4 separate regions of the Homo sapiens genome follow, and all the other regions are linked to region 1. Evidence: fine-mapped expression QTL. A gene starts in region 1. Each other region holds a variant in brackets. All regions are shown on one strand. Distances are between the middles of the regions.

Region 1 (8,103 bases):
AGGGCGGTCATTGGCCAGAAAGGGAGGCAAGGAAGACTTCTGGGGTGATGGGCAAGTTCTGTATCGGGATCTGGGTAAGTACTCATACACATGTATAATATGTGGACTCCTTTCATTCCATGAATGTTAACAACTCGGTTTTGTTTGTTTGTTTGTTTGTTGAGATGGAATCTCGCTTTGTCACCCAGGCTGGAGTGCAGTGGTGCGATCTTGGCTCACTGCAACCTCTGCCTCCCGGATTCAAGCAATTCTCCTCCTGCCTCCTCAGCCTCCTGAGTAGCTGGGATTACAGGTGCCTCACCACCATACCGCTTAATTTTTGTATTTTTAGTAGAGACAGGGTTTCACCATGTTGGCCAGGCTGATCTCGAACTTCTGACCTCAAGTGATCCGCCCACCTCAGCCTCTCAACGTACTGGAATTACAGGCATGAGCCACCACACCCAGGCTAACAATTCATTTTTTTAAAGTAGAAGGAAAAATAAAGGAGAGAAAAATGGACCCCCATCTCCAAAATCTCAGACAAGCCAGCCATGGTGGCTCACGCCTATAATCCCAGCACTTTGGGGAGGTCAAGGTGTGCAGATCACCTGAGGTCAGGAGTTTGAGACCAGCCTGGCCAACATGGTGAAACCCTATCTCTACTAAAAATACAAAAATTAGCCAGACATGGTGGCACATGCCTGGAATCCCAGCTATTTGGGAGGCTGAGACAGCAGAATCGCTTGCGCTCAGGAGGCAGAGGCTGCAGTGAACTGAGAGCTTGCCATTGCACTCCAGCCTGGGTGACAGAGCAAGACTGTCTCAAAAAAATAAATAAAAATGTGCCTGGGCGCAGTGGCTCATGCCTGTAATCCCAACACTTTGGGAGGCCAGGGCGCGCGGATCACCTGAGATAGGGAGTTGGAGACCAGCCTGACCAATACGGAGAAACCCCGTCTCTACTAAAAATACAAAATTAGCTAGGCATGGTGGCGCATGCCTGTAATCCCAGCTACTCGGGAGGCTGAGGTTGCGCTAAGCTGAGATAGCGCCATTGCACTCCAGCCTGCGCAACAAGAGCAAAACTCCATCTCAAATAAATAAATAAATAAATAAAACAAAAAAATTTGCTGGGCTTGGTGGCGCACGCCTGTAATCCCTGCTATTTGGGAGGCTGAAACAAGAGAATCACTTGAACCCGGGAGGTGGAGGTTGCAGTAAACCAAGATCGCACCACTGCACTCTAGCTTGGGCAACAAAGTGAGACCCTGTCTCAAATTAAAAAAAAAAAAAAAAAAAAGTTGCCTAAGGCTGAGGGGGGAAAAGGGAAGGATAGGGGTGATGGCTAAGGGGTGTGGGGTCTTTTTGGAGTAATGGAAACATTTTCCAATTAATGGTAGTAATGGATGTACAACTCTGAATATACTAAAAGTCATTGAATTGTGCACTCGAAATAGATAAATTATATGGTATGTGGGTTATATCAATAAAGCTATTAAGCCTGGGCAACATAGTGAGATTACAGCTCAACAAAAAATTAAAAAATTAGCCAGGTATGGTGGCAGGTGCTTGTAGTCCCAGCTACTTAGGAGGCTGAGGCATGAGGATCACCTGAGCCCAGAAGGTCAAGGCTGCAGTAAGCTATGATCCCACCATTGCACTCCAGCCTGGGTGACAGAGCAAGACCTTTTCTCAAAAACAAACAAACAAACAACAACAACAAAAAAGGGTGGGTGCAGTGGCTCATGCCTGTAATCCCAGCACTTTCAGAAGCCCTGTAATCCTAGCACTTTAGGAGGCCAAGGTAGGAGGATCACTTGTGCCCAGTAGTTCAAGACCAGCCTGGGCAACATAACAAAACCCTGTCTCTACAAGAACATACACAAATCAGCCAGGCGTGCTGGTGCATGCCTGTGGTCCCAGCTACCAGGGAGGCTAAGGTGGGAGGATCACCTGAGCCTGGGAGGTCAAGGCTGACTGCACTCCAGCCTAGGTGACAGAGACCCAGTCTCAAATAAAAAAAAAAAAGAAAGAAAGAAAGAAAGAAAAAAAAAAAACACTGAAGCTAAATCTACCATAGCTAAACCCTTCGTTCATTTCAAGACATGTTTGTTAGCACCTATTATGTACAATGTACATACATGTACAATGCATTTTTGCCTGCTTCCAGAGAAAGGCTTGAAATAAAGCTTCTGTAACCATTGTAGCTGAACTCTCTTCCCACACACAGCCCTCATTTCCTCTAAACACTCTGACTCAAATGAACTGTCCCTATTTGGCAAAACTCTCTAACCTGGAGGCTGTCTTCTGTCACCTGACATTCTGTCCCCAAAGTCAGCCAAACTTTATTATACATCTTTAGCAATTGATCAGAAGAATGCCCTGCCAGCTGTTTCCCTCTCTCTGAGGGCAACTCCCCTGGCCCTCCCTCCTTCGGCCTGGTTGCAATTCTGGCCGGAAACCCGCTGGTGCCTGTGGCAAATAAAGTGAGGAAGGCAGGAACCTTTAGACTTCCCAGTGTGAGGCAACGGCAGGGCTAGGACTAGGGTGAGGCTGTTGGTGCAAGATTTAAGGAGGCGCTCACTCACAGGTGCGGACCCTGCACTTACAGGACCCTGAGAGCGAGTGCCTCCTTAAATGTTGCACTCCAGGGTCCTCACCGTCCTTTTCCTAGTCCTGGGCTCCGGGTTCTAAGCACCCAGATGCTCCTTCCTCAAACGGAGGTTTCCGCAAGACAGGACTGGGTCTCTTTCCTTCTCAGCCCTGCCCTCAGAATTCCAGCCCCTAATCAACTTTTATGGAGATGCATGCCAGGCCAAAGGGCTGCCCCTAAGCTTTAGGAAGGAAACTCCTTAAATGCTGTTGACTTAGGAGTTCCGCCAGTGCCCCACCTGCCCAGAGCCTCTTGCCCCAGTGCCCCACCTGGGTTTATGGTGCCCCCCTCCCAGAAATATGAGCTCAGGGGTCAGAAACCCAGGTCCTGAGGTCCCTCCTCCCCAAGGACTCAGGATCCCAGGCCCCCAGTCCCCTCTTCCCTTAAGTTTAAGAAGTCCAGGCCACCACCCTCTTGGGGACCCAGCACCCAACTCACGAAGCGCCCGAAGCGGATGGAGTCTCCATCCTCAATGTGTAAGTCAGCCTGGGCCCCACTAAGGCGGGAGATGACAGACTGGCAGCCAGGGAGGAGGGAACGGAGCAGCCCCGAGCCTGTAATGTGGTCCGCGTGGCAGTGGGTATTCACTGGGAGAGAGAGGAGGGACAGGTCCGGAGGGTACAGAAAGGACCTGGGAGTCCCAGCCCAGATCCTTCTCCCTCAGACTCAGGAGTTCTGGGCCCCAGCTTCCCATTCCACTGACGCTGCAGCCCAGCCCCGCTGGGATCCATGAGTTTGGTCCCCGGACTGACCAGCATAGAGCAGCCGCAGCCCCAGCTCCTTGATCAGCTGGGCATCCCGAGGCGCTGTTTCCAGGACTGGGTCGATCAGAACGGCCTCCCGGGACTCTCTGTCACCCAGCAGGTACGTGAAGGTGCAGCTCACAGGCTCGAACATCTGGGAACGGGGGACCCAGGTGAGGGCGCAGAACCGGACTTCCACCCACTGGAGGCCAAGTAGTCCAGACTGACCCTATCCTCTTCCTAAGATCCAGAAGCAGAAACCCCAGCCCACTCTTTCCCCGGGAGTCGGGAGTCCGGAGCCCCACTACCTTCCCCTATCAGAACAAAAGAGTTCCAACTTCCTAACATCCCAAAATCAGGGTCCCCAGCACGTTCTTTCATAGAGGACCCAGGGGTCTGGCCCCAAGCCCAGAGGCCCCCAGACCACTCACCTTTAAAGGACCCAAGAGTCCAGCCCTAAACCTCCACCCCGCTTTCCGCAAGATGCAGGCGTGGGTCCCCCCGGATCTCTCCCTATTAAGAGACCCCGGAGTTCCGTCCTTGCTGCCGCCTAGTGCCCAGCAGTCCCCTCCTAGGTCCAGCCACCCGCACCTGCCGCAGGAGGATGGGGGCTCCAGACCCGCCGCGCTGGCTCAGCTGCCGCCGGGCGACCCTCAGTACAGCCTCCGCCATCGCGCCCACTGCGGGGTCAGGAATGAGCGGAGGCCGAGCGCCTGCAGGAGCCGGGCGCTACGGCACTGACCCCGGGAAGGGCGGGGCGGGGGCGGAGCACGCCTTAAAGGGGCCACGGACGCCTGGGGCAGAGGGCGGGGGACCGCCGAGCGGGACTGGGGCGAGGGCGAGACCGAGGAAAGCCAGAGTGCAATGCCTGGACGCTTTGAGACCCAGAAAAAACAGAGAACAGGGAGACACTCAAAGTGCGAGGGACAGACGCTCAGAGACACACAGACATACTCATGTAGGAACAGAGATAGGGAGAGAAGTAGAAACCCAGGGAGAGGCCCCAGTACACTCATAGCCTCGGGGCCGTTTTTTTTCCTTTTTCTTTTGTTTTATTTTGAGACAGAGTCTCGCTCTGTCACGCAGGCTTGAGTGCAGTGACTCGATCTCAGCTTACTACAGCCTTAAACTCCCGGGTTCAAGCGATCCTCCAACCTCAGCCTCCCGAGTAGCTGGGACTATGGCACGTTGCCACCACACCCGACATTTTATATATATATATTTATATCTATATATATATTTATATACATATATATATATACACACACACACACACATACATGTATATAAAATTTGTTTTTTGCAGAGACGGAGTTCTCACTATGTTGCCCAGGCTGATCTCGAACTCCTGAGCTCAAGCGTTCCTCCCACCTTGTCCTCCCAAAGTGCTGGGATTACAGACGTGAGCCACCGCGTCCCGTGGGGCCGTTTTCTAGCAGGTGGTAGGATAGTCATGGTTAGAAAAAGATGTTCGGTTCCGGGAGGCAGAGGTTGCAGTGAGTAGAGATGACGCCACTGCACTCCAGCCTGGGCGACAGAGGGAGACTCTGTCTCAAAAAAAAAAGATATTCGTTCGGTTCCAGGTCATTAATATCTTGAGGGACTTTTGAGTGGGTGCCTGGTTACCAGAACAACACTTGATCCCATTAAAGTTCATCCAGAAATTGCATAAGCATTTTATCAGGAATGTTTCTCTCTTTCCAGGAAGAAATCTTAAAAAAAAAAAAAAAGATAATTTTGCATTATCTCTTGAATAATCAGATTGGGGATTATTCATCTTCTGTTGGGGTGTGAACCTCTGAAAAGAGCTTGTGTTCATTTACACCAAGGACCTGGGGCTGAAAAACTGTAGTCTCAAGTCATGAGCTGTCAGAAAGTCTGCTCTTTGTAATCGTAGCAGTAGTGAGAATAGGACATCCCACTCTCATCTGGAGGATCTATGTCACTTTGTGACATCAGAGCAGCCTTGATTTCCAGCCTAGGGGCAGAGCTTTTTTTTTTTTTTTTAATTGTTAGAATTTTTTTTGTAGAAACAGGGGTCTTGCTATGTTGCCTAGGCTGGTCTCCAGCTCCTGGCCTCAAATGGTCCTCCCACCTGGGCCTCCCAAAATGCTGGGATTACAGGTATGAACCACTGAGTTATCCTGTCCCACAGCTTCTGAGGAGGGGTTTCCTGCAACAACATTTATCTTAATTCTGGAGTTTCCAGGGAATGGTCCCTGGAGCTATTTTCAGAGCAGCCCCTGTGTGAATGCCTTTACACAGAGAAGGCCTGCTTTTCCTTAAGCCTATCAAATTGCTTCATTAAAATTTTATGTGGCCGGCTGGGCGCGGTGGCTCATGCCTGTAATCCCAGCACTTTGGGAGGCTGAGGCGGGCGGATCACGAGGTCAGGAGTTCAAGACCAGCCTGACCAACATGGTGAAACACCATCTCTACTAAAAATATAAAAATTAGCTGGGTGTGGTGGTGCACACCTGTTATCCCAGCTACTCAGGAGGCTGAGGCAGGAGAATTGCCTGAACTCGGGAGGTGGAGGTTGCAGTGAGCTGAGATCGTGCCACTGCATTCCAGCCTGGGTGATGGAGACTCCATCTCAAAAAAAAAAAAAAAAAAAAAAAAAAAGCATATGGCTGAGCTCATGCACAGGCACTTTGAGCACTTTGGGAGGCCTAGGTGGGCAGATCACTTGAGGTCAAGAGTTTGAGACAGCCTGGCCAACATGGTAAAACCCCATCTCTACTGAAAAAAATAAAATAAAATACAAAAAAATTATCTGGGCGTGGTGGGGCACGCCTGTAGACCCAGCTACTTGGGAAGCTGAGGCATGAGAATCATTTGAACCCAAGAGGCAGAGGTTGCAGAGTTTGCAGTGATCCAAGATTGCACCTCTGCAACATAGCAAAACCCTGTCTGGGCAACAGAGCGAGAGTGTCTAAAAAAAAAAGGCCAGGTGCGGTGGCTCACGCCTGTAATCCCAGCACTTTGGGAGGCCAAGGCGGGTGGATCACGAGGTCAGGAGATTGAGACCATCCTGGCTAACACGGTGAAACCCCGTCTCTACTCAAAAAAAATACAAAAAATTAGCCGGGCATGGTGGCGGATGCCTGTAGTCCCAGCTACTCTCGAGGCTGAGGCAGAAGAATGGCGTGAACCCGGGAGGCGGAGCTTGCAGTGAGCCGGGATCGTGCCACTGCACTCCAGCCTGGACGACAGAGCGAGACTCCGTCTCAAAAAAAAAAAAAATTCCAGGCATGAGGTCTCATGCATGCCTGACTCAAGCTAGACAAAGCTGAGGACCCAGAGGTGACTCAGTCTGGCTGGTAGGCGAGAGAGGTAGGGAAAGCAGGTCTGAGACACAGGGAGGTGTAGGGATTTGGGGAACTCAGGGGAGGGAGGAGCCAGGGAAAGGAAGACCCTCAGGCACTCCTTACTGAGAGGGTCCCCCAAATAAGAACTTCTCGCCCCTGGCACCCTTTCCCGTTGTTTTTGCAGAATTTCTAGACCATTTATGTGTCCTTTGAAGACACACCCTAGGCAGGGTTTATAGGCTCAGCTGTGAGATGTTCTAAGAGTTAGACTTGGCTTCACCCTTCTCAGGTGTAGGACCTTGGGCTGAAAACTTATCTTCTTCTGGGTTCCAGTTTTCTTATCTACAAAATGAGGTTGAAAATAGTTCAATAGCCTGACATAGCACAGGCTCTCAATGGGAACTGCCCATCATTATTTTGTCACTATCCTTGACTCCTTCCTACCCTTGCCACCTCCACCCACTTCCAGGCCCTGCTGAGTTAAACTCTCTCTCTTTTTTTTTTTTTTTTTTTTTGAGATGGAGTCTTGCTCTGTTGCCCAGGCTAGAGTGCGGTGGTGCAATCTCAGCTCACTGCAACCTCCGCCTCCTGGGTTCCAGAGATTCTTCTGCCCCAGCCTCCCAAGTAGCTGGGATTACAGGTGCACACCACCACACCCAGCTAATTTTTGTAGTTTTAGTAAAGATGGGGTTTCACCATGTTGGCCAGGCTGGTCTGGAACTCCTGACCCCAAGTAATCCACCTGCCTCAGCCTCCCAAAGTGCTGGGATTACAGGGCCGAGCCACCGTGCCCAGCCAGATTTAACCTATCTTAACCAGGCCACTTTTCTGTTATCACACCCTCTGCCCCATTCAAGGGGCAGCAAAGCATAAATGCAAATTGCCTGGACTGCAGGGCCAGGCTGAGGGATTCAAATCCTGGCTCTGATACTTCCTGGCTGGGATGACCTTCCCCTCCACACTTCATTTTCCTCCTCTGTACAAGGATGATAGTAGCACCTCCTCTTAAAACATTGCTATGGGGATTAAATAAATTAATGCACATAAGGACAGTTTCCAGTGTATAATAAGTGCTAGCAATTAATACTGTAATTAATATATAACAATACCCTCACTGGTCTTCTGGCTTCTACTCTGCCTTCTTAAAATCATGGTTCTTGAAAATAGCTGTGGCCCTAGAGGTTGGGCGCGGTGGCTCACACCTGAAATCCCAGCACCATGGGAGGCCGAAGTGGGCGGATCACCTGAGGTCAGGAGTTTGAGACCAGCCTGGCCAACATGGTGAAACTCCATCTTTACCAAAAATACAAAAAAAAAAAAAAAAATTAGCCAGGCGTGGTGACGGGCACCTGTAATCCCAGCTACTCAGGACGTTGAAGCAGGAGAATCACTTGAACCTGGGAGGTGGAGGTTA
Region 2 (8,103 bases), 83 kb before region 1:
TGAGAAGGTACAGATGACCCAGAAGAACCATCCAGCCAAGCCTAGCTAAATGCCCTACCCACAAACTCAGAAGCTAAAAAAACATGCTACTGAGCTTTGGGGTGGTTTGTTACACAGCATTATTGTAACTAACCAATACAAGAAACCTGCAGCTGCTCAGCCAAATCCTGAAGCTAGCCTGCTTGGATTTGAAACCCATCTCCATTACCTGTCAGCTGAGTGACTTAACTTCCCTGAGCCTTAGATCTCTCATCTATAAAATGGGATAAGAGCAGGTCTAACCCAACAAGATGGTTCCATCATTCAGGAAACAACAGTTTATGGGGTTCCTCTTGCTCTGTGTGAGAAAGAGACAACAATGACCAAGACAGACTAGGCATGATGGCTCACGCCTGTAACCCCAGCACTTTGGGAGGCCAAGGTGGGAGGATTGATTGAGCCCAGGAATTGAAAGCCAGCCTGGGTAACATAGCAAGACCCCATCTCTAAAAAAAAAAAAAAAAAAAAAAATTAAGAACCTGGGAGGCCGAGGTTGCGGTGAGCCGAGATCGCGCCAATGCACTCCAGCCTGGAGGCGAGAGCGAAACTCCATCTCAAAAAGAAGAAAAAAAAAATTAAAAATTAGCCAGGGGTGGTAGCTCATGCCCATAGTTCCAGCACTTTGGGAGGTCAAGGTGAGAGGATCACCTAAGCCCAGGAGATTGAGGCTGAAGTGAGCTATGATCACACCACTACATTCCAGCCTGGGCAACAGAGCAATACCCTGTCTGTAAAAAACCAAAACAGTGACCAAGAGAAAGTTCCATATGCATAAAAAGCAAACAGATCTACGATATGAAGTCAGGTAGAGAGAAGTAAGTGCTCTGAAGAGAAGCACAACTGACTAAAGGACGGAGGCTGTGATGGGGAGAGGAGATACTGCTTTCGATAAGGTAGTCAGGGACGCCCACCAAAAGGAGATGACATCCCAGCCACGTGTGAATGAAGAGACCATGAGGGAGGTTTTCCCAGCAGAGGGAATGGTGGTGCCAAGGTGTAGAAGCGGGCATGAGATTGGTGTGTGTGAGCAATGGAAAGAAGGCTGGCAAGAAGAGGCAAGTGGCAGAATGGCAGGAGGCGGCATCTAAGAGGCAGGCACAGATCAGAGTATGGGGATAATGGATTTAGGAAGTTTTTTGTTTGTTTATGTTTTTGTTTAGAGACAGAGTCTTGCTCTGTCACCCAGGTTGGAGTGCAGTGGCGCGATCTTGGCTCACTGCAACCTCCATCTCCTGGGTTCAAGTGATTCTCCTGCCTCAGCCTCCAGAGTAGCTGGGATTACAGGCATGCACCACCATGCCCGGCTAATTTTTTGTATTTTTAGTAGAGACAGGGTTTTGCCATATTGCCCAGGCTGGTCTCGAACTCCTGAACGCAAGTACTCCACCCACCTCAGCCTCCCAAAGTGCTGAGATTACAGGCGTGAGCCACCGTGTCCAGCCATTTTTTTTTTTAAGGCAGGGTCTTGCTCTATCGCCCAGGCTGGAGTATAGTGGCACAATCATGGCTCACTGCAGCCTCAACCTCCTGGGCTCAAGCTATTCTCCTGTCTTAGCCTCCCACGTAGCTGAGACTACAGGCACAGGCCACTCCTAGCTTGGAGTGTGGATTTTATTGTGATTAAATTAGTTGTCAACCTAGATAACAAACAGCGAGAGGCTCTCTAAAAGAAACAAAAATTGGTTGGGCGAGGTGGCTCACGTCTGTAATCCTAGCACTTTGGGAGGCCGAGGCGGGTGGATCACTTGAGGTCAGGAGTTCGAGACGAACCTGACCAACATGGCAAAGCCTCATCTCTACTAAAAATACAAAAATTAGCCAGGCATCATGGCAGGTGCATGTAATCCCAGCTGCTAGGGAGGCCAAGGCAGGAGAATCAGTTGAACCCGGGGGGTGGAGGTTGCAGTGAGCCAAGTTCATGCCACTGCACTCCAGCATGGGCGAAAGAGTGAAACTACATCTCAAAAAAAAAAAAAAAGTTTATTCAAGAACAGAGAATTGCAATGGGAATAGGAGTGTTATACATATTCAAGGAGGTCAAAGAAGACAAAGGTTTTTAAAGAAAAAAAATGAGGAGAATTACATAATGGTTTTGAAATAATCATCTTTGGCTAGAAAAATGAATCACAAAGATGATGCCAGTCTGGGGTTGGACAGGCAGTTGCTGGGCAAACGTCCTTGCAGAAGTATTTTTCTGTGTAAGTTTGCAATGGTCTTTGTGTGAGATTGTGTTTTTTGCAGTTTTTTTGTGATAGTTTTTGTGATCAGTCATACAAGTATGAGAACCCTCTCTCCATGGCTTTCCTTCACTCTGTTGGTCGGAGCTTTTTTTTCTTTTTCTTTTTTTTAACATGAGTGACTCCATTTTGATTCTGATAACCTTCAAAAGTTCATATGTGCCTGGGTCATGGGGACTGCTTAGTAAATGCTAGCTTTCACTTTACTATTGGAATTTTTACCTCCAAAATGCAGCATCTCCCCATTCCAAGGTCCTAAGTAGAATGGAAGAGGAGATGCCAGGGAATCTTGACAAGGGAAACTTTCACGGTTGACTCTACATTTGAATTTCTATAGCAGGATTAAGTCTGTGTATTATTTACGTGATTTAAAAAGGCCGAGTGTGGTGGCTCACGCCTGTAATTCCAGGACTTTGGGAGGCTGAGGCAGGTGGATCACCTGAGGTCAGGAATTTGAGACCAGCCTGGTCAACATATAATGAAACCCCATCTCTACTACGAATATAAAAATTAGCCAGGCATGGTGGCATACACCTGTAATCCCAGCTACTCAGGAGGCTGAGGCAAGAGAATTGTTTGAACCTGGGAGGCAGAGGTTGCAGTGAGCCAAGATGGCACCACTGCACTCCAGCCTGGTGACAGAGCGAGACTCTGTCTCAAAAAAAAAAAAAAAAAATCTAAAAATTAGCTAGGCATGGTGGTGCACACTTGTGGTCCCAGCTACTTGGAAAACTAAGGCAGAAGGATCGCCTAAGCCTAGGAGGTCAAGGCTGCCATGAGCTGCGATCACACCACTGCACCCCAGGCTGGGTGACAGAGCAAGACCCCCTCTCACAAAAAAATTTTTAAAAAGATAATGTTAAATATATGTTAGTAGATAAATGTTCACAAAAATCATTAGTGTTGAAGGAAGTGAGGAAAAGATTAAAGGGTGTATTAGTCCATTCTCACACTGCTATAAAGATACTACCTGCTATAAAGATACTGGCCAGACAAGGTGGCTCATGCCTGTAATCCCTACTCTTTGGGAGGCTGAGGTGGGTAGATCACCCGATGTCAGGAGTTCAAGACCAGCCTGGCTAACATGATGAAAACCCGTCTCTACTAAAAATACAAAAAAAAAAAAAAAGTCAGGCATGGTGGCAGGCACCTGTAATCAGCTACTCAGGAGGCTGAGGCAGGAGAATCACTTGAATCCAGGAGACAGAGGTTGTGAGCCGAGATCGCACTACTGCACTCCAGCCTGGGCAACAAGAGGGAAACTCTGTCTCAAAAAAAAAGATACTACCTGAGACTGGGTAATTTATAAACAAAAGAGGTTTAATTGACCTGCAGTTCCACATTGCTGAGGAAGCCTCAGGAAACTTACACTCATGGCGGAAGGGGAAGGGGAAGCAAGCACCTTCTTCACAAGGTGGCAGGAGAGACAGTGCAGGGGAAACGGCCACTTATAAACCATCAGATCTCATGAGAACTGCATGGGGGAACCACCCCCAAGATCGAATCACCTCCCACCAGGTCCCTCCCTCCACATGTGGGGATTACAATTTGAGATGAGGTTTTGGGGGGACACAGAGCCAAACCATATCACCAGGGTTAAGATTTATAAATTGCTCTGTGAACCCCGAAAATCTGAGACAGGTCTCAGTTAATTCAGAAAGTTAATTAGGAGACCAAGGTTGAGAATGCACGCACATGACACAGCCTCAGGAGGTCCTGATGACACGTGCCCAAGGTGGTAGGGGCACAGCTTGGTTTTATACCTTTTAGGAAGACATGAGACATCAATCAGTAGGTGTAAGATGTACATTGGTTCAGTCCAGAAAGGTGGGACAACTCAAGGTGAAGGCAGGAAACTGGAAGAAAGGAGGG[G/A]GCTTCCAGATCATAGGTAGATAAGAGAGAAGTGGTTGCATTCATTTTTTTGAAATGGAGTCTCACTCTGTAACCCAGGCTGGAGTACAGTGGTGCTATCTCGGCTCACTGCAACCTCCACCTCCTGGGTTCAAGTGATTCTCCTGCCTCAGTCTCCCAAGTAGCTGGGATTCCAGGTGCCCACGACCACACCCAGCTAATTTTTGTATGTTTTAGTAGAGCAAGGGTTTCGCCATGTCGGCCAGGCTGGTCTTGAACTCCTGACCTCAGGTGATCCGCCAGTCTCGGCCTCCCAAAGTGCTGGGATAACAGGCATGAGCCACTGCGCCCAGCCAGTTGCATTCTTTTTGTTTTTTGTTTTTTGTTTTTTTTTTTTTTGAGACAGAGTCTTGCTCTGTTGCCCTAGGCTGGAGCGTAGTGGCGCAACCTTGTCTCACTGCAGCCTCTGCCTGCTGGGTTCAAGTGATTCTTCTGCCTCAGCCTCCAGAGTAACTGGGATTACAGGCATGTGCCACCATGCCCGGCTAATTTGTTGTTGTTGTTGCTGTTGCTGCTGCTGTTGTTGTTGTTGAGACGGAGTCTCACTCTGTCATCCAGGCTGGAGTGCAATCGTGAGATCTTGGCTCACTGCAACCTCCGCCTCCCGGGTTCAAGCTATTCTCATGTCTCAGCCTCCCGAGTAACTGGGATTACAGGCACCCACCACCACGCCTGGCTAATTTTTGCATTTTTAGTAGAGACGGGGGTGTCGCTATGTTGACCAGGCTGGTCTCGAACCCCTGACCTCAGGTGAACCATCCGCCTCGAACTCCCAAAGTGCTAGGATGACAAGCATAAGCCACCATGCTGGTAGTTGCATTCTTTTCAGTTTCTGATTAGCCTCTCCAAATGGGGCAATGAGATATGCATTTATCTCAGTGAGCAGAGCGGTGACTTTGAATAGAATGGGAGGCAGGTTCACCCTAAGCTGTTCCCAGCTTGACTTTTCCCTTTAGCTTTGGTGATTTTGGGGCCCCAATATTTATTTTCCTCTCACAGCTCAGAACTGTGCTTGGTGCCATGAGTGTTTGTCGCATAGCTGTTGGTAAATGCAGGATGGGCATTGCAGGCAGAAGGAACAGGAAGTGCAAAGGTTCTGAGAAGGGAATGGGTCTCTGTGGCTAAGGCTCATCCAGGAGACCTGCGTGGCTGCAGCGGAGCAGGCAGTGGTTAGTGCAAGAAGTTGCGGCCAGCACAGCGGTCAGGGCCAGACCCTGTGGGCATGCCAAGGGCACAGTGCTTCCGCTAAATGAGAAGAGAAGCCACTGGAGTGTTTCAAAAGTTAACCATTATTGGCCAGGCATGGTGACTCATGCCTGTAATCCCAATGCTTTGGAAGGCCAAGGTGGGAGAATTGCTTGAGCCCAGGAGTTCAAGACCAACCTGGGCAACAAAGTGAGACCCCATCTCTACAAGAAATTAGACAGGTGTGGTGGCACACACCTGTAATCCCAGCTACTCTCCAGGCTGAACTGGGAAGATGGCTTGAGCCTGGGAGGTCAAGACTGCAGTGAGCTATGATCACGCCACTGCACTCCAACCTGGGTGACAGAGTGAGGCCCTCTTTCAAGAAAGAAAAAAACTAATAATAATATTGTTCAATGAAATTTACCAGAGGCCACTAGTTTGGACCAAGCTTCTGTGCAAAGCCCAACAGACCAAACCAAAATGGAGTCACTCGTGCTAACTTCCACATCACCAAGCCAAAACTCAATTGTTTTACCTGACCTTCCAAAAAATCAGGAGAGTGAAAGATAACAGCCAAGTCCCCAAGCAGGCCAGTTTTAGCCTGCATGATAAGGAAACCCCTGTCCTTTAACCTTTACAAGGAAAGTAATTTTGAAATGGCCAATACACTTTTTCTTCTCTGTTTCTGCAGTCTCTGCCCTTTCTGTCTATAAAACCAACCTCTTTTGCTCGACTCATCAGAATACTCATTCTGTCTCTTATAATTCGATGTTGCCCAATTCTAAAATCACAAATAATAACCAGTTAAGATCTTTAAGCAGGCTGGGCACAGTGGCTCATGCCTGTAATCCCAGCACTTTGGGAGGCCAAGGCAGGTGGATCACTTGAGGTCAGTAGTTCGAGACCAGCCTGGCCAACATGTATCTTTTGTAAAGACATAAAAATTAGCCAGGCATGATGGTGCATACTTGTAATCCCAGCTATTTGGGAGGCTGAGGTGGGAGGGAATCTATAAGCAAATTTGTTGTGATTTTGTCTTTTGACAGTTCAAGGACTGAACACTTTCTCTTTTTTTTTTTTTTGAGACAGAGTCTTGCTCTGTCACCAGGCTGGAGTGCAGTGGGGCAATCTTGGCTTACTGCAACCTCCACCTCCCGGGTTCAAGCAATTATCTTGCCTCAGCCTCCCGAGGGGCTGGGATTACAGGCACCTGCCACCACGCCTGGCTAATTTTTGTATTTTTATTAGAGGTGGGGTTTCACCATGTTGGCCATGCTGGTCTCGAAATCCTGACCTCATGATCTGCCTGCCTCAGCCTCCCAAAGTGCTGGGATTACAGTCATGAGCCAACACGCCTGGCCGGACTAAGCACTTTCACCTTTATTCTTTTCTGTCTCCAAACTCATCCACAATCTCACCCAGCTTGGACTCACCCCTGGCAGTTCATCTCCACCCTGACCTTGCTTTAGCAATGATCTTTCATTTCATTCATCCCTTCTTTTGGGGCCTTTCCATGACTCTAGACTCTGAGGGTATACAATAGTGAGCAATGCAGACTCAGATCCTGCCCAGAACATTCCCTAACACACAGTAGGTGTTCATTAAAAGCTTTTAGAATGAATAAGAATAGTTGTTTTTTTAAGACCCTACTAACAAAATAAAAAGTTGACATCCTTAATGCTTGACCCTCCAATTTTGTCTTTGAAGCTTGATGGTTCACAATCTCCAAACTGGTTTACAGCACAAAGTCCCAATGCCAAGGTTCTTTCCCAAATGGGCCTGACCTAATTCCCCAGCCTCATCTCCCTGCTCTCTCCCAGGTTGCTGCACCCAGTTCCGGACACAAGGCATGTTCGCTCAGGCCTCTGCACGTGCTCCTTGTTATTTAAGATCCCGCTCCTGGTCTTATCCATCACGACCTCTGAGAAGATGTCCTGGAAACCCAGACAGAGCTTTGTCCCTGTGTCTGCTGCAGATTTAGGTGAATGTTGGTGCAAGTGCATTCGCCAAATAGCAGTAGTACTTTCCGAGAGTCCAGCCAGGGGCTGGATGCTGATGCTTAGCTGACATTGCTGCTCCAAGCCGCCAGAGGGCGCATGGAAAACACCAATCTGACTTGCAGGGTGAAAACCCTACAGGAGCTCCCAGTTTCTCGTATAATTAACAGTTAAGGTGCCACTGTTCTTGTTTTGTTTGTTTGTTTTGAGGCAGGGTCTTGCTCTGTCACCCAGGCTGGAGTGCGGTGGCGCAATCTCGGCTCTCTGCAGCCTCGTCATCCTGGGCTCAAGTGAACCTCCCACCTTTTGACACAGAAAAGTTGGCTTATCAGTGGTTCATTTTGTTAACCCATGTTCATGAGTTTCTTGTGATGTGCTAATTTACTGCTGATATTTAGGATAGTCCTGTTGATCCTAATAAATTCCTAATTGTTGTTCTTGTTTCATCGGTTCACCGTGAACCAGTGGATGTTGTCTCACTCTTATCCCTGATGCACACTGGCACTTTTATATGAAGTGCCCTTGATGACACTAGTGATGATGGTTGTCACTAGAGTGGTACTTGCATTCTGGATTATCTTACTGCACTTTAGCTTGCTAGGTGAGCACTCAAACTCCCTAGTAGCTGAGACCACAGGTGCGTACCACTCAGCTAATTTTTGTATTTTAGCAGAGATGGGGTCTCGCTATATTGCCCAAGCTGGGCAGACTCATGGGCTCAAGTGATCCTC
Region 3 (8,103 bases), 160 kb after region 1:
AGGCCTTGACTGCTGTGAGCCCTGGTTCCCTTTTTTGTAAAAGAGGGAACCCCAGGGCTGATTTCAGTTGTACTGGTTGTTAAAATATTGAGGTATGTCCAGATTTGGTTGATAAAATTCCCCTGCCTGGAGGCCTTGAGTGCCCTGATGGCATCTCTGGGTCCTCCCAGACATCTTCATATTCTAGAAAGATGAGGGAAAGACCGGGTCCCTGGAGGCCAACAGGCTGCTACTCTAGCAAGTGGGCAGGATTGTTACTACCAATACCCTGGCCTGTATTGACAGGTGGTCAAATATTTTGAGTATCCTCCGTGGGTGGGGTTAATGATAATGGCTGGTAGGACTACTGTAAGGATTTAGTGAGCTAATGTGTGTAATGAGTGATGAGGCAACCCATTATTATTTTATATTATTATTATTATTTCTTTTTTAGAGGAGAGTCTCACTGTCACCAAAGCTGGAGTGCAGTGGTGACATCATAGCTCACTGCAACCTTGAATTCCTGGGCTCAGGCGATTCTCCCACCTCAGCCTCCCTAGTAGCTGGGACTGTAGGTGTGCACCACCACGCCTGGCTAATTTTTATTTTTATTTTTATTTTTTATTTTGAGACACAGTCCCACTCTGTCGCCCAGGCTGGAGTGCAGTGGTGTAATCTTGGCTCACTGCAACCTCTGCCTCCCAGGTTAAAGAGATCCTTGTGCCTCAGCCTCCTGAGTAGCTGGGATTATAGGCATGTGCCACCACACCAGGCTAACTTTTTTTTTTTTTTTGAGACGGAGTCTTGCTCTGTCACTGGGCTGGAGTGCAGTGGTGTGATCCCGGCTCACTGAAACCTCCGCCTCCCGGGTTCTAGCAATTCTATTCTCCTGCCTCAGCCTCCCGAGTAGCTGGGACTACAGGCATGCACCACCACGCCCAGCTAATTTTTTGTATTTTTAGTAGAGACAGGGTTTCACCGTGTTGGCCAGGATGGTCTTGATCTCTTGACCTTGTGATCTGCCTGCCTCGGCTTCCCAATGTGCTGGGATTACAGTCGTGAGCCACCGCGCCAGGCCCTAATTGGCTTTTGCCATCCAGTGTTGGGCCTGGCCTTCTCCCGCAAGGGTGCAAAACAAGTTGGTAAAGATCAGAGAAGCTGGATGGGTAAGCCTGAACTGTGAAGTTAGATTTATCGGCAAAATGATGGGGCTCTTCAGTAACCTCAGGAAATGCCTTGGATATAGCACAGAGTTCAGCTTTAGTTCCAGAGACATAAGAAATCTGAGGACCTCAGTGTCGTTAGACAGCCTGGTCTTAAGGGGATAAGTTTTTATAGGTTGAGGTTGTGAAGCAGAAAGGAAAGGGGTGTTAGTGGGGAAAGACATCAGAAAAGAAAGAAAGAGAAGGGTTAAGAACCAGTAGATAAGGCCTGAGAGAGAAAGATTTGGGGCTTCAAATGCCTTTTTTTTTGGAGACAGAGTCTCGCTCTGTTGCCCAGGCTGGAGTGCAGTGGTGTGATGTCGGCTCACTGCAACCTCCGCCTCCCAGGTTCAAGTGATTCTCCTGCCTCAGCCTCCCGAGTAGCTGGGATTACAGGCGTGCGTGCCACCACGCCCGGCTAATTTTTTTTTTTTTTTTTTTTTTTTTAGTAGAGACAGGGTCTCACCATGTTGGCCAGGCTGGTCTCGAACTCCTGGCCTCAAGTGATCTGCCCATCTTGGCCTCCCGAAGTGCTAAGATTCCAGGTATGAGCCACGGCGACTGGCCCACCTGTCTAATTTTTAAATTTTTTTAAGACGCTGGGTCTCACTATGTTGTTCAGGCTGGTCTTTAACTCCTAGGCTCAAGCGATCCTCCCACCTTGGCCTCACAAAGTGCTGGGATTACAGGTACGAGCCCCTGCACCTGGCCACAACCTATTAATAGTAATAATAATAATAACAACATGTCCCCCTGTCCTTCTCTGGCCTCACTGAGTAGTCCCAGGCTTTCCCCACATGCCTCTCAGGACTTAGTTTCCCCATCTCGATGCTCTCTCAGTCCCCTCTCTTGCTGGGTGTCCCAGTGGCCAGGATGGTGGGTGGCACCGCTATCTTCCCGGCCTATTTGCTCTCCCTCTTCCGGGGCTGCTACCCTGGCCAAGGCCCTTGAATAAAAGGCAAGGGCACCTGTGTCCTGCTTCCTTCTCTCCTGCCTGGATCATGCTCTGGCTCTCTCTGCCCTGTTGCTCCTGGGAGCACTGGCTGCCCCAGCAGGTAAGCGCGTCATGGTCCATCAGAAAGGGAGAGGGTCGGCTCAAGGTCACATGTGGTGTTGGGAGTCTGGCTTCAGAGTCTGGGCCCCAGGTCCTTCCAACTGGGCTCATTGTCTAGCAGGCAGAAGAACAGGGCAGCTGAGAACCTAGTTCTGGAACCAGGCTGCCTGGGTTCAAATCCTGACTCTGTCACTTCTTAGCCGTGTGACTCCAGACAAACCACATAACCTCTCTGTGCCTCATTTTTTCCATGTGTGAAGTGGTGACAATGCCCCTGCCTCAGACAGTTGTTGAGACATTGGTTGAATCCACACGTTTGAGGAGCTCAGAACAGTGCCAGCCTGGCAGTGGCTCTGTTTGAGGGTGAGCTCTGCTGGATTATCCAGGAGCAGTTACTGTTACTCTTTTACCTCACCTGCCTGTCTCCCCTTTGGCTCTAATTCTGCCACCTTTGCCTGAGTTGGGAATTAAGTGGTTTGGATCCTAGCCAGGACCTCACTGTGCGATCTTGAATTGAAACCCTAAACCCAGCAGCTCCCACTTAGAGATTCTGTGATTCTCATCTCCAAACCTTTGTCTGCGTTGTTTCATCGACTTGGAATGCCATTCGCACTCCTCACAACAAAGAAGGTTGCTGATCTCCCAATGGCCCTCCCACCTCAGCCCTTAGTCCTATTCTTTTTTTTTTTTTTTTTTTTTGAGACAGGATCTCACTCTGTTGCCCAGGCTGGAGTGCAGTCGTGCAATCTTAGCTCACTGCAGCCTGAACTTTTGGGCTCAAGTCATCCTCAGCTTCCTAAATAGCTGGGATTACAGGCATGAGCCACCATGCCTGATTAGTCCTATTCTTGAATCGTGTGTGTGTGTGTGTGTGTGTGTGTGTGTGTGTGTTCTTTGTCCTTCTCAAACTGCAGAGTCTGATCACTGTTTTCTTCCTTGCAGGAAGCTCTAAGACATGTCCAGCCTGCTCTTTGCTGTGAACCTGCATTGAAATAACTTGTCCTTCTGCCCAGGACTTCTGCTTGTTTAGCCAGATGCAGCTGGGTGGGGGACCGGGCTGGGGACTGGACAGGGGCTGGGTGGAGAGAATGGACAAAGGCAGTGGGTGGAAGGGGGGCATGGATGAGCCATCCTGGGACTGGAGATTGCCAGCCCTGCCTCATAGCTCAGCCTGGTGCTACTGGGGTAAAGGGCAGAGGGCAGCTGAACAGCAAAAGAGGCCCTGGATTGGCCAGGGGGATGGCTATAGAGTGGGCAGAGGTCCTGGAGGGCTTGGAAAGCAGGGGCCCTAATCTCCCTTCCTCAAACTCTATCCCTAGAAAATGGGACTCTCATTGAGAAGGGGTCATGTGTGGCCCCTGGAGAATGCTAAGAAGGTGTCTACGCCCTGACCTACAGCCCCCATGCAAGCCTCTGGGTCAGCACAGCCTCTTGTGAAAACAACTGCAGCCACCTTCCCCAGTAAGGTTTGTTGGGAGGACCTCAGGCTCACACACCAGGGTAGGGTGTCATGGGGACCCAGCCTCAATTTCCTGCCTCACAGCTTTTTGTCTGGCTGATTGGGGCAAGAAGGAGACTCTCAGTTTTCTCATCTGGAAAATGGGTGTGATGTAGGTTTTAAAGGGTGTTCATCCCCTAGGCTGGCACGTGGTAGACACTCCTTTTGTTGCCATGTTTATTTGAATACTGGGAGGCTAAAGAGAACTCCAAGCTCTTTTCTGTTTCTCTGTCTCTCTCTCTCTCTCTCTCTCTTTTTGAGACAGAGTCTCACTCTGTTGCCCAGGCTGGAGTACAATGGCGCAATCTTGGCCTACTGCAACCTCCACCTCCTGGTTCAAACGATTCTCGTGGCTCAGCCTCACGAGTAGCTGGGATTACAGATGTACACAACCACGTCC[G/A]GCTAATTTTTGTATTTTTAGTAGAGTCAGGGTTTCGCCATGCTGGCCAGTCTGGTCTCAAACTCTTGACCTTCAGTGACCTGCCCGCCTGGGCCTCTCAAAGTGCTGGGATTACAGGCATGAATCTCTGTGCCCCGCCTCTCTTTTTGTCTTTAATAGAGGGGCTCCCCTTGAAGGCTAGTCAAACAGAACAAGAAACCTCACAAGTGGTGATAGGCCCAGGTCTAGGGGAGCCCAGCCAGGAGCCCAGGATGCAAAAATGTTTATTCTTTATTTTTTATTTTTATTTTTTTTGACAGAGTCTCACTCTGTCACCCAGGCTGGAGTGCAGTGGTGCGATCTTGGCTCGCTACAACCTCTGCCTCCTGGGTTCAAGCAATTCTCCTCCCTCAGCCACCTGAGTAGCTGGGATTACAAGCACATGCTACCACACCAGGCTGATTTTTTTTGTATTTTTAGCAGATATGGGGTTTCCCCACGTTGACCAGGCTGGTCTCCAACTCCTGGCCTCAAGCAATACACCCACTTTGGCCTCCCAAAGTTCTGGGATTACAAGTGTGAGCCCTCATGCACAGCCCCAGGGTGCAAAATTTAAGGAGATGCTCACGCTGAGGGGATAGCCCTCTACTTGCACAACCCTGAAAAGTCGTGCCTCCTTAAATTTTGGGCCCCTGGTTTCACCCTAGATCTGGCCCTGGGTGGTGACAAAGATCACTTTTCGTTGCTTGGTTATTTCTTCTAAGAAGGAATTTGTACTTGGCAGATGTAGCAATGGGGAGAGGTAGCCATCCTTTCAAACAAGTGCGATTTCCCTCCTCCTAATTTGTGTCTAATTGCCCTCCTAAATTGTGTCTCTCAGCAAAATAAAACCCCCAGGTTCAAGTTACGAGGTGGGCATGCTATTCAGTATATAAAATGTCAGGTATGATTATAACTGCATTAATTTTTTTTTTAGACAGTCTTGCTCTGTCGCCCAGGCTGGAGTGCAGTGGTACAATCTTGGCTCACTGCAACCTTCACCTCCTGGGCTTGAGCAATCCTCACACCTCAGCCTCCTGAGTACCATGGCTACAGACATGTGCCACCATGACTGGCTAATTTTTTTTGCATTTTGTAGAGATGGAGTTTCGCCATGTTGCCCAGGCTGGTCTGGAACTCCTGGGCTCAAGTCTTCCACCTGCCTCGGCCTCCCAAAGTGCTGGGATTATAGGCATAAGCCATTGTGCCCAGCCTCGGTCTCAAACACTCCTTGCAGCCCCTGAAAACTTATTCTGGGGCCAGGCGCAGAATCACTTTGGAGGGAAATGATCTGGATTGTGGGAGTAGAGGCAGTGAGAGAGGGAGGGCAGGAGAACAGAGGCCTAGTGAGGAAGGATGGCTGTAGGGGTGTTCCTCAGCCCCCACCCCGCCCTGACTTTGTCCACTCCCACCAGAGGCAGGGCCCAAGGCCAAGCCCAACACTGTGAAATGTCACTACTGTTCCAGGAATAAGTCGGCTCCATGAACTGCACTGGGAAACAGACTGCATGTGTCACCCTCCACGGGACCTGGAGTAGAGGTAAGGGCCCCTTCACAGGAGGTGATTTTTGTGGCAGGTTTCTTCCCACCTGCACAAATAAGGCTTGAGCTTCATTTGCACGTGCGTCCTGGTTATGTATTGCCATTTAACAAATCACCCACAGGCCAGGAGCAGTGGCTCACACCTGTAATCCCAGTACTTTGGGGGGCTAAGGTGGGAGGATTACTTGAGCCCAGGAGTTCAAGACCAACCTGGGCTACATAGCAAGTTCCCATCTCGAAAACAAAAACAAAAACAAAAAAACCCCAAATCACTCACAAGGTGGGTGGCTAAAAATGACAATCATTTAATGATCTCTTCCAGTTTCTTTGGTTTGGGAATTCAGGAAGAGCTCCTCTGGAGAGTTCTGAGTCTCTCGTATGTTGTAGTCAGAGGGTGTTAAGAGCTGGAACTGCTGGGGCAGGAACAACCAGGGGCTTTCTGAGCATCTCTTGCATATATGTAAGCACAGGCCTTTCTATGTGGCCTCTCCACATCGGTTAGATTGAGCTTCCTCCCATCATGGCTACCTCAAGGCTCTTTACATGGTGGCTAACGATTTCATTCAGCAAACAAAGTTACAGCTGCTTGGTCTTTATGTCTCAGCCTTGGAAGTCACATAATGTAACTTCTATTCTGCTTTATTGATCAAAATGGTCACAAAAGTTCCATCTGGTTTCAAGATGAAAGAGGCATGGACCCCACCTGTTGATGTGTCATAGATTTGCAAAGGTATTTTTAAATCACCAGTATGATTTGCAAACAGTTGGAGGAGAGGCCTTTTCAGCAAAAGATTTATAATATAACCACAGTAGCCAGAGGATAGACTAATTATGAAGCCAATCAAAGGATCGAGAGCAGTAGCCTGGGCTTCTGCTTTTGGCAGTATGGTGGACTCAATCCTCTAAAAGGTCTTCTGCTCCAAACAGTGGCACACTGGGAAGGTGGAGGACTGAGACAGTGAAATAGAGGAAGTGGCCCATCATGGTTGGGAGGAGCAGTTTATCACTGACATTGCTTAGAATTGCTGGTACTACCTGGTGATAATAAAAAGCAAACTGATTTTTAGTTGGTTTTATGATTTAAAAAAATTCTCTATAGGCTGGGCACGGTGGTTCATGCCTGTGATCCCAGCACTTTGGGAAACTGAGGCGGGTGGATCACTTGAGCACAGGAGTTCGAGACCAGCCTGGCCAACATGGTGAAACCCCATCTCTGTTAAAAATACAAAAATTACCTGAGTATGGTGGCACACACCTGTAATCTCAGCTACTTGGGAGGCTCAGGTAGGAGTGAGCCGAGATTGTGCCACTGCACTCCAGCCTGGGTGACAGAGTGAGACTCTGTCTCAAAAAAAAAAAATTCTCTATAGACACTAAGCCCCTTGTAGCCTGTTCCCAGGCTGGACTGCTCCCACTCCCTTCCCCTGCTTGGTATGCCACTGTTTACAGATAAACAAGATCCTGTACAGAAATATTTTTCCACACTTTTTGGGGTTGCAGAAAGTTAAGAAAATGTCCACGTGTCCCTAAGCAAAACAAAAATGTGAACAGAAATCATAATGGGAGCAGTGAGAAAACATGGAAGGCATGGTGGCCTGGGAGCAAATGCTGATAATAACCTGCTTTAGGTAAACAGGTCTTGGGCTGGCAGCATGCTTCTGGAATTTAGATTCCCACATAAGCAAGGGACCTCGGACAGAAGCCAAAATGATCCCTGGTCAGTAGCACCTCCTGGCACTCAGTAGAATCAAAAGCAATTCCTTCCCAGGGAAAAGCTCCCAGGATTCCCACAGATGAATATCAACCAAATATGAGCTCACAATCATAGTTCATGAAACGCACAAGGAAACAAGCCACCATGAGTGATAGCAGAAATAACAAATCACAGATACAGACCTGTGAGGAGCTCAGCTATTGTAATTATCAGCTGTAGAACATAGCGTACCGGCACGTGATATGTCTGAAGGAATAAACTTAGAATCACAAATGTGAGCAGGCAACAAGAGGTTGTAAAAACTGACCAGGTAGATTTGAAACTGAATCATATAGAACTACTAAGATGGCAACTTTCAGATAGCGAAAGATAGACATCAAGTTGGAAGGCTTGGACTCTGAGCCTCTTGTTGCAATCTCATCTCATTTCCACAGGGGGTCCCCAAATTCTGAAGGGCTGTGCTACACCAGAGGTCTGCAACTTACATGAGAATGCCACCCTGGGTCCAGAAGACTCTGGATTTCATCTCACCGCTAAGCCTGAATGCAACTGCCTTACTCCTACACATCCAGGTGCTTTGACCCCTGCCTTCCTAAAAACCCAACCTTTCTTACCTCCCTGGATCCCCTATGCTCTTTTCAAACCTATGTGTTCCCAGGGTGTCCACATTTCCTACGATAATGCTCCCAATGAGTA
Region 4 (8,103 bases), 160 kb before region 1:
TTTTGAAGATTTTCTGCAGCTCAAGCCAGTAGGATTACTTGAGGAACACAATGTGGGAGAGAAAGAGCGTGGTCAAGGACAACACCAATGTGTTCAGCTAGACTGGCAGAAACGAGCCGCCACGGGTGTAAGTAGGGGAGATGGGAGTGGGGAGAGAAGGGTGGGAGAAGGGAGCAGGAGCCATGATTTTGATTTTGTCATCTGTGAAGTATGCAAATGAGCAGCCCTCCAGGGTGGCATCGGTTCTGCAGGTCGCATGTGTTGGTGGAAGCTGGGGGCTCAGTCTAAGAGTCCCTGCATCATGGGACCGATCCCCCCTGCTCTGTGATGGCCGTGAGGGGAGGCCAGGGGCTGTGGTTTCACACTAGAGCCTTGAGGGCCTCGGGGCCAAGGTAGCCGAGGATGGTCTTCAGTACCTGTCTCCCTCCTGCTCCCAACCCCGACCCTGAGGGTCCAGAGTCCCTGGGTTCCCAGCCTACCTCTGCCACTCACAAGCTGTGTGGCATGGGCAGCTACTGAGCAATCCTGCCTCTGTTTCCCTTGTTGCAAATGAGGGTGTTGATTGTGATCACACCACCTACTGCTGGGGTGCTGTGGGGAAATGAGGCATCCCAGATAAGCTGTGTTCCCTGGAACCTTAGATGGGTGGATCTGTGGGAAGCAATGAGGTCAGCCAGGTGCAGAGGCAGTGCTCAGCGGCAGTGCTCAGCCCACCCTGGCCCTTCGCATCTTGTTTGGAACATAGGGCTTTGCAACTGAAAGGTATGAGAAAGGTCTCAGGCTGCCTTCCTTATTATTGAAATGAGGACCTTAAAGCTCAGATGGGGAAGCAGAGATGGGATGAGGATAAGGAAGAGCTTCCATTGCTCTCACAGCTAAAGCAAGGAACGGCCGTTCCCCCAGGGCTGTGAGAGGACGTCCCTGCGGGTGTTCAAGCAGAAACAGGGAACAATGGGGGTGGGATTTCGACTCCCAAGTCCCTTCTGAATCCTTGGTTAAGGGAATCTGTGGCCAGGTCACCTGGAGTGTGACTCAAGAGTGTGATCACCTTCCCTAGCCCAGGACGTGGAGGGACAGACATGGTGGGTTCCTGGCTTACACACACCCTGGGATTCCTCTCCCCAGATTTTCTGACCTGTCATCGGGGGACCACCATTATGACACACGGAAACTTGGCTCAAGAACCCACTGATTGGACCACATCGAATACCGAGATGTGCGAGGTGGGGCAGGTGTGTCAGGAGACGCTGCTGCTCCTAGATGTAGGTACGTGGACTGAGGTAGAAGACGAACACCTGTCCCAAGTCCCTGGCAGCTCCCTCCACCCCACTGGATTCTTTCCCCTGAATTTCCTGCTCAGCTCCCTTCACATCTGCAATTTTCAATCCGACTCTTCTTCTCTCTGCATCTTGGGTTCCCCTTATGAAAACTGGGGGTGAAGCAGTGGGAATGACAGTGTCTGCCTTTCTGGGGAGGGGTGACCACGTATGCGGTAATCCCTGCCCAGGGTGGAGAACCGTGCCAACACCGAGGACTCTCAGTGGCTTCATACATTCTGGAAATGTTTATCCAGCATTTGTTTTAGGTGCCGCAGATCCAATCCCATCTGTATTCCTGCAGCTTTATATGCCTTGAGAAACAGGAAACAAACAAACAAAAAGCAGCAAAGTATGGGGAATGGAGATCCCAGCTCTGCAGAGAAATCTGGCAAGGAAAAGGAGATAGGAAAAGTGAGGGGAAGGCTGCAATTTTAAGCTCAGTGCTCAGGGGAGACTCATGGAGAAGGTGACCTTTGAGCGAGAACTGGGAGGAGGCAGAGCTTCGGGCAGGACCCAGGCCCCAGCCTCCGTCTTTGCCCCACACTAAACATGACCCAGCAGTTGTGATCAGGGCATTCACCCTCTGCCTGGGGGGTATTGTGAAGGGCAGGGAGTCCAGCTCTGGAGCCCCTGCTGCCCTGGGAGCTGCCCAGTCCCCAGCCCAGCTTTCCCTCTCACCCTCAGGACTCACATCAACCCTGGTGGGGACAAAAGGCTGCAGCACTGTTGGGGCTCAAAATTCCCAGAAGACCACCATCCACTCAGCCCCTCCTGGGGTGCTTGTGGCCTCCTATACCCACTTCTGCTCCTCGGACCTGTGCAATAGTGCCAGCAGCAGCAGCGTTCTGCTGAACTCCCTCCCTCCTCAAGGTATGGGATCCAGGGCCGTGGAGAAATGAGGCCCAGACACACAGAGACTCTGGCCCAAGGTGGCCAGCTGCTCTGAGCACAAAGTCATGTACCCCCACCTTCCCTCTGCTCCCCAGCTGCCCCTGTCCCAGGAGACCGGCAGTGTCCTACCTGTGTGCAGCCCCTTGGAACCTGTTCAAGTGGCTCCCCCCGAATGACCTGCCCCAGGGGCGCCACTCATTGTTATGATGGGTACATTCATCTCTCAGGAGGTGAGTGCTGCAAGCAGGGCCCCAAGGATGAAGGCACTGGTGGCCTGGACTCCTGGGTCTGAGGGAGGAGGGGCTGGGGGCCTGGACTCCTGGTCCGAGGGAGGAGGCGCTGGGGGCCTGGACTCCTGGTCCGAGGGAGGAGGGGCTGGGGGCCTGGACTCCTGGTCTGAGGGAGGAGGCGCTGGGGGCCTGGGCTCCTGGTCCCAGGGAGGAGGGGCTGGGTGCCTGGACTCCTGGTCTGAGGGAGGAGGGGCTGGGGGCCGGGGCTCCTGGGTCTGAGGAGCTGAGGCTCTGGACTCCTGGGTCTGAGGTAGGAGGGACTGGGGGCCTGGACTCCTGGGTCTGAGGGAGGAGGGGCTGGGGGCCTGGACCCCTGGGTCTGAGGAGCTGGAGCTGGGGGTCTGGGCTCCTCGGTCTGAGGGAGGAGGGTCTGGGGCCTGGACTCCTGGGTTTACAACTTGGCTGGGCTGTACTCTGTGTCCTTTCTGACTTGGTCTTCTCCCTCTAGGTGGGCTGTCCACCAAAATGAGCATTCAGGGCTGCGTGGCCCAACCTTCCAGCTTCTTGTTGAACCACACCAGACAAATCGGGATCTTCTCTGCGCGTGAGAAGCGTGATGTGCAGCCTCCTGCCTCTCAGCATGAGGGAGGTGGGGCTGAGGGCCTGGAGTCTCTCACTTGGGGGGTGGGGCTGGCACTGGCCCCAGCGCTGTGGTGGGGAGTGGTTTGCCCTTCCTGCTAACTCTATTACCCCCACGATTCTTCACCGCTGCTGACCACCCACACTCAACCTCCCTCTGACCTCATAACCTAATGGCCTTGGACACCAGATTCTTTCCCATTCTGTCCATGAATCATCTTCCCCACACACAATCATTCATATCTACTCACCTAACAGCAACACTGGGGAGAGCCTGGAGCATCCGGACTTGCCCTATGGGAGAGGGGACGCTGGAGGAGTGGCTGCATGTATCTGATAATACAGACCCTGTCCTTTCTCCCAGTGCTGGGATTTCTCCATGTGAGGGGGCAGCAGGACACCCAGGGATCTAGCGTGGGGGAGGAGAGGAGCCTAATGAGAAAATGACCATCTAAAGCCTGCCCTTCATTGGTCTGGTTCACGTCTCCAAACCAGCTTGGATGGTAGCAGAGACTTCAGGGTGCTCCAGCCAAACGTATTTGGGCATCACCATGACCTGGGAGGGGAAGATGCACTGAGACGTATGAGGCTTCCAGCCTAGCAGCCAGGGCCCTAGCACAAACAGGAGGCTCGCCCCATCTGAGCAACTGCAGGAGAGGTTAGTACAGTCATGCATTGCTTAACGACAGGGACGTGTCGTTAGAAATGTGTCGTTAGGTGATTTTATGACCATAGGAACATTGTAGCGTGCACTTACACCAACCCAGATGGTACAGCCCAATACACACCCAGGATGGACGCTAGAGTCGACTGCTCCTAGGCTACAAGCCTGCAGTGCATGTTATGGTGTGAATACTGCAGGCAATCTTAACACCACGGCAAGTATTTGTGCATCTACACACATCTAAACATAGAAAAGGTACAGCATAAATACACTATTGTCATCTCAGCAGACCACCGTTCTATACGCAATTCGTCGCTGACCCAAACGTTGCTATGTAGCATCTGCGTATCGTGGGATAATTGACATGAGGGCTTGAGAGAACTCCAGAAAAAAATGGGTTAGCATTTTCCCAGAGCTGTTATCATTGGGTCTCTCTTACCACCATAGCCCAAAAAGGGTGAGGAGAAGAGCCACTGCTGGAATCTGCAGACAGAGAGAGAGAGAGAGAGAGAGACATAGACAGAAAGAGACAGAGAGAGCTGGAGAGAGAGCCGGAGACAGAAAGAGAGAGATATTCAGAGAGGGTTGCCTAACAAGAGCTCCCATCTCAGGCTGAAAAACGCGTCCAGCCCACAATGATACTGGGGAGGGAAGTGGGGAACTAAAATTCCAAACTGATGTCCTCACTCTGGTCTCCAGTTGAGGTTCCCCATTGACTGAACCCCCTAGAGGCCACAGAAGCAGGAGACTCCACTGGTCCAGCCCCCATAGATCTGCCATTCACACTACAGAACAGAGGAGAGGAGAGGGAAGAGGAGAAGAGAGCGAATCTGGAGAAGGAAACAGAACACGTCTAGTACCGTTCACTCCCTTGCCCCTCGGCATCCACCCTTTCCCTTTGTCCAAATGAAAATCAAAGTCCAGGACGGGCTCGGTGGCTCACGCCTATAATGCCAGCACTTTGGGAAGCCGAGGTGGGAGGATCACTTGAGCCCAGGAGTTTGAGACCAGCCTGGGCAACATAGTGAAACCGCTTCTCTACAAAAAAATACAAAAAATAAGCCGGGTGTGGTGGTGTGCGCCCCCTCCCTCTACTGGTCCCAGCTACTCAGAAGGCTGAGTCCAGGAGGTCAAGGCTGCAGTGAGCCAAGACTGCACCACTGCACTCCAGCCTGGGCGACAGAGCAAGACCCTGTCTCAAGGGGGAAAAATAAATCAGAGTCCTCCGTACAGATGACACACAATTCCAGTCCTTCCCT[C/G]TGTCACAGTAACAGTGTGTGATGGTGACAGTGATGTCCTCCTCCCATTGTGCTGGGCACCAGTTCTTCACCCACAATGAGAGAAAGATGGGGAGGAGATGGCTTCCAATACAGCTGCTGAGGTCCTGGGGGCGGGGCTGCTGGTGCTTAGAGCTGCTTTCTTCCAGTACATTCCACATTGTCTTCCCACTTCCAAAACCTCCTTTGGATGTTATTTGTTACCTGCAGTGTAACCCAAATCTTGATTCTTATGGAGAGTGAGTCTTGGATGGCCTTGTCTTTAGTGGGTTTCTGTAGTTTTCCATGGAACAGGGCCCTGGCCAAGGAAATGTTACCGCCATGAGTTGCCTGCCTTCGAAAATAGCCTCCTTGTCCCAGCCACCCGACCTCCCTCTGTAATCAGATGCCATTCCCCCGACTGCAGAGTGACGTCTCCTTTGCCTGCTGTTTTGGCAGCACAAGGGGCACAGGATGGCTGGAGGGCTGTCATGGCTTCCTGCAGATCAGAACTAGGAAGAGATTCCTCATCCACAGCAGCCCAGGGCCACGGGGACAAAGAGCAAGCATTCTCTCAGTGGGCTGGCAGGTGCAGTCACGGGAGGGAGCCGCGCTTATTCTTCCTGTCTTTCCTGGATCTTTGCATCTGGCCCTGGGGCGCGTGACCCGATAGCCTGGTTGCTGGTTTATAAGATGTGTGGCCCCTCCTGTGGGTGGTGGGGTACGGTCTCCCTCCCGGTGCCCTGATAAGCCACACATGAGCCATTGCGCCAATCTGAGAAGCAGCTGTGTCTGTATAGAGGGGCACCTGAGACGGTCAGTGGGTTCCATGGGTGTGAGTTAATTACCCCCCATTCTTTGCGTTAACACGTGTCCCCAGTGGAAGCAACCCTGCATGGGTTCCAGAGCCACAGGAAAGGCGCTGTTCACAGAAGCACTGAGCAGGGTCCAGGGAAGGCCAACTGGAACCCCCAGTGTGTGCGTATCCGTGTGAGGACAAAGCCCAGTCCCCTCCAGGATGGGACGTGTCCTGTGTGGCCAGCCTATCTGCAGTGGCCGGGTAGTCCTCCTGTAAAATGACGCCTTCCAGGGGCTTAGCCCCGGGCTCTGCCTACACTGGGCAGGGCTGGATACAGTGTGCAGCCAGGCCAGTGCTGGGAGACTCAGTCCACTTGTGGTAAGGTATGTCGCCGTCCTCCCTATCCATGTGGCCATCTGCACCTGGACCCCCTGAACAAGCTCTGAGGGACAGAGTCTGCCTGACACCATCCACCAAACACCAAGAACCTCATCCCCACAGCACAGGTTCTGGGCTTAAGGGTGGGGACGGCATAGCTCACACTTTGTGCCCATCCCCAGAGGAACATCCATGTGTCCTCCCTGTCTTAAGTTTACTCTTTTATTCTCTTCAAGTCCTTGACCATGTGGCCCGCTCTGGGTTCATGCAATGGACCCAAGTCCATCCCTCCTTGCAGAACCCCTGAGGTTCTGCCCATCTGAAGGATTTCCCTTCATCACTCCTCAGGACCACCTGAAGTGGGCACTAAGGCAGCCGCCGTCCACTTCTGCTGGGCGCCAGCTCACCGTGAGGACCCATCCATAAGCCTGGTCTGCACTTTCCTCCTCTGTATGAGGTCACAGGGCTTCCCAGGAGCTCACAGATGTGGTAGAGGGAGGGGCAGAAGGACAGGTGCCATGGGAGCCTGAGTCACTTGCTGGCCTCAGACCTGCTTGAGCCTGACCCCATGCTCAGCTGTCCCGTGGATGCTGGAGGCTGCTGTGCATGCCCCAGGTTATGGTTTGGTAGCTCAGAGAGCACCCGGCCCTGAACTTGATTGCACTTGGCCCAGGGATGAGCCAAGAGCTGCTTTCCGAATGGTCAGAGTTACCTGCAGGAGGAGGCGCGGAATTTCTCTAGAACCTCCAGCTCTGCACTGTTAATCTTTTGGAGCTTGTGAAAATCTCCATAAAATAATGCACTAGATTTGAAACATAGACTCTCTTACATTTTTTCGTTTCTAAATATACTCTAAATATACTCATCCAGGAGTTATCGAGAATAATATTTTGCAATTCCAACTGGAGTAATGTACTGGGAAGTGCTGTGGTTCATTTCTTTCTTTCTATTTTTTTTTTTTTTTTTGAGATGGAGTCTCGCTCTGTTACCCAGGCTGGAGTGCAGTGGCGTGATCTTTGCTCACTGCAACCTCCGCCTCCTAGCTTCAAGCGATTCTCCTGCGTCAGCCTCCCGAGTAGCTGGGATTACAGGCACCCGCCACCACGACCGGCAATTTTTTTGTATTTTTAGTAGAGATGGGGTTTTGTCATGTTGGCCAGGCTGGTCTCAAACTCCTGACCTCAGGTGATCTGCCTGCCTTGGCCTCCCAAAGTGCTGGGATTACTGGCGTGAGCCTGTGCTTCATTTCTTTTATAATTCTATTGTGGTTTAAATGGCCCGTTGCTTTCCTAATTTGTGGGTATTCCCTGTATCACCTATTGTTTACTTTCTACCTCTCTGATATTTACCGTATATGAATTTATCAATCCTGATTTTACTTCTTCAAAGCCAGTATGAGTTTAGTCAAGTCTGATTTCCCCGTACAGGATGAAAGGTTTTTGTGGGCGTCAAGCAAGAACATTGTAGGATGCTGAATAGGATCTGTATACATCTCAAGTTGTCTAGGAAGCAGGGACATTTGCTCCTTCTTATCTTGCTGGGATTTCTGTCACTAGCAGTTGGAAGGGACTCCAGTTTTAAGACAAAGGTTTACAATTTCTTTAGCACCAAGAAAAAAAGAAGCATAAAACTGGAGAGAAAAGGGTATAATATTATGTTCAGCAAGGAATATGGAAAATATAATCTTTTGAATCTTCTGAGTTAATTAATCTGTACTCTGAGATGGGCAGAAATGAGAACCACGTCCCCATCTCTGCAATAAATTCCCTAGGTTTGGATTTTAGCCAAGAAGTTTCTGCTTTCCTGGAGAATGTCTCTGAATTTAAACACCACACCTCAAAGCCAGAAAAGGGAAAGTTTACTTTGGGCTTTGATCCAAGTTTTCAGTGGCTGGAAACACGGTTACACTCCTGGAGACAAGGTGGCC

The links.
Region 2: its variant is fine-mapped to the expression of ETHE1 in monocytes (TOPMed, PIP 0.95).
Region 3: its variant is fine-mapped to the expression of ETHE1 in whole blood (TOPMed, PIP 0.95).
Region 4: its variant is fine-mapped to the expression of ETHE1 in whole blood (INTERVAL, PIP above 0.99).

What each region holds. Positions count from the first base shown.
Region 1 is chr19:43,523,128-43,531,230 of GRCh38, forward strand. It overlaps ETHE1 (ETHE1 persulfide dioxygenase), which reads right to left and starts at 4,074. Exons shown (of 7, transcript NM_014297.5): 1 at 3,970-4,074; 2 at 3,388-3,532; 3 at 3,074-3,222. The coding sequence starts at 4,050. It also overlaps a transcript of ZNF575 not described here. RefSeq lists silencers at 2,526-2,685, 4,036-4,225, 8,028-8,103 and enhancers at 2,720-3,225, 3,226-3,730, 3,246-3,425.
Region 2 is chr19:43,439,744-43,447,846 of GRCh38, forward strand. No RefSeq gene overlaps it. Among named protein-coding and RNA genes, the nearest start is that of LYPD3, 22 kb to the right of the region's middle. The variant G/A (reference allele first, on the strand shown) is at 4,149.
Region 3 is chr19:43,684,441-43,692,543 of GRCh38, forward strand. It overlaps the pseudogene LOC105372412. Among named protein-coding and RNA genes, the nearest start is that of PLAUR, 18 kb to the left of the region's middle. The variant G/A (reference allele first, on the strand shown) is at 4,134.
Region 4 is chr19:43,359,140-43,367,242 of GRCh38, forward strand. It overlaps CD177 (CD177 molecule), which reads left to right. Exons shown (of 9, transcript NM_020406.4): 6 at 1,126-1,266; 7 at 2,004-2,189; 8 at 2,306-2,440; 9 at 2,949-4,033. The coding sequence ends at 3,181. Among named protein-coding and RNA genes, the nearest start is that of CD177, 9.5 kb to the left of the region's middle. RefSeq lists an enhancer at 5,066-5,567. The variant C/G (reference allele first, on the strand shown) is at 5,003.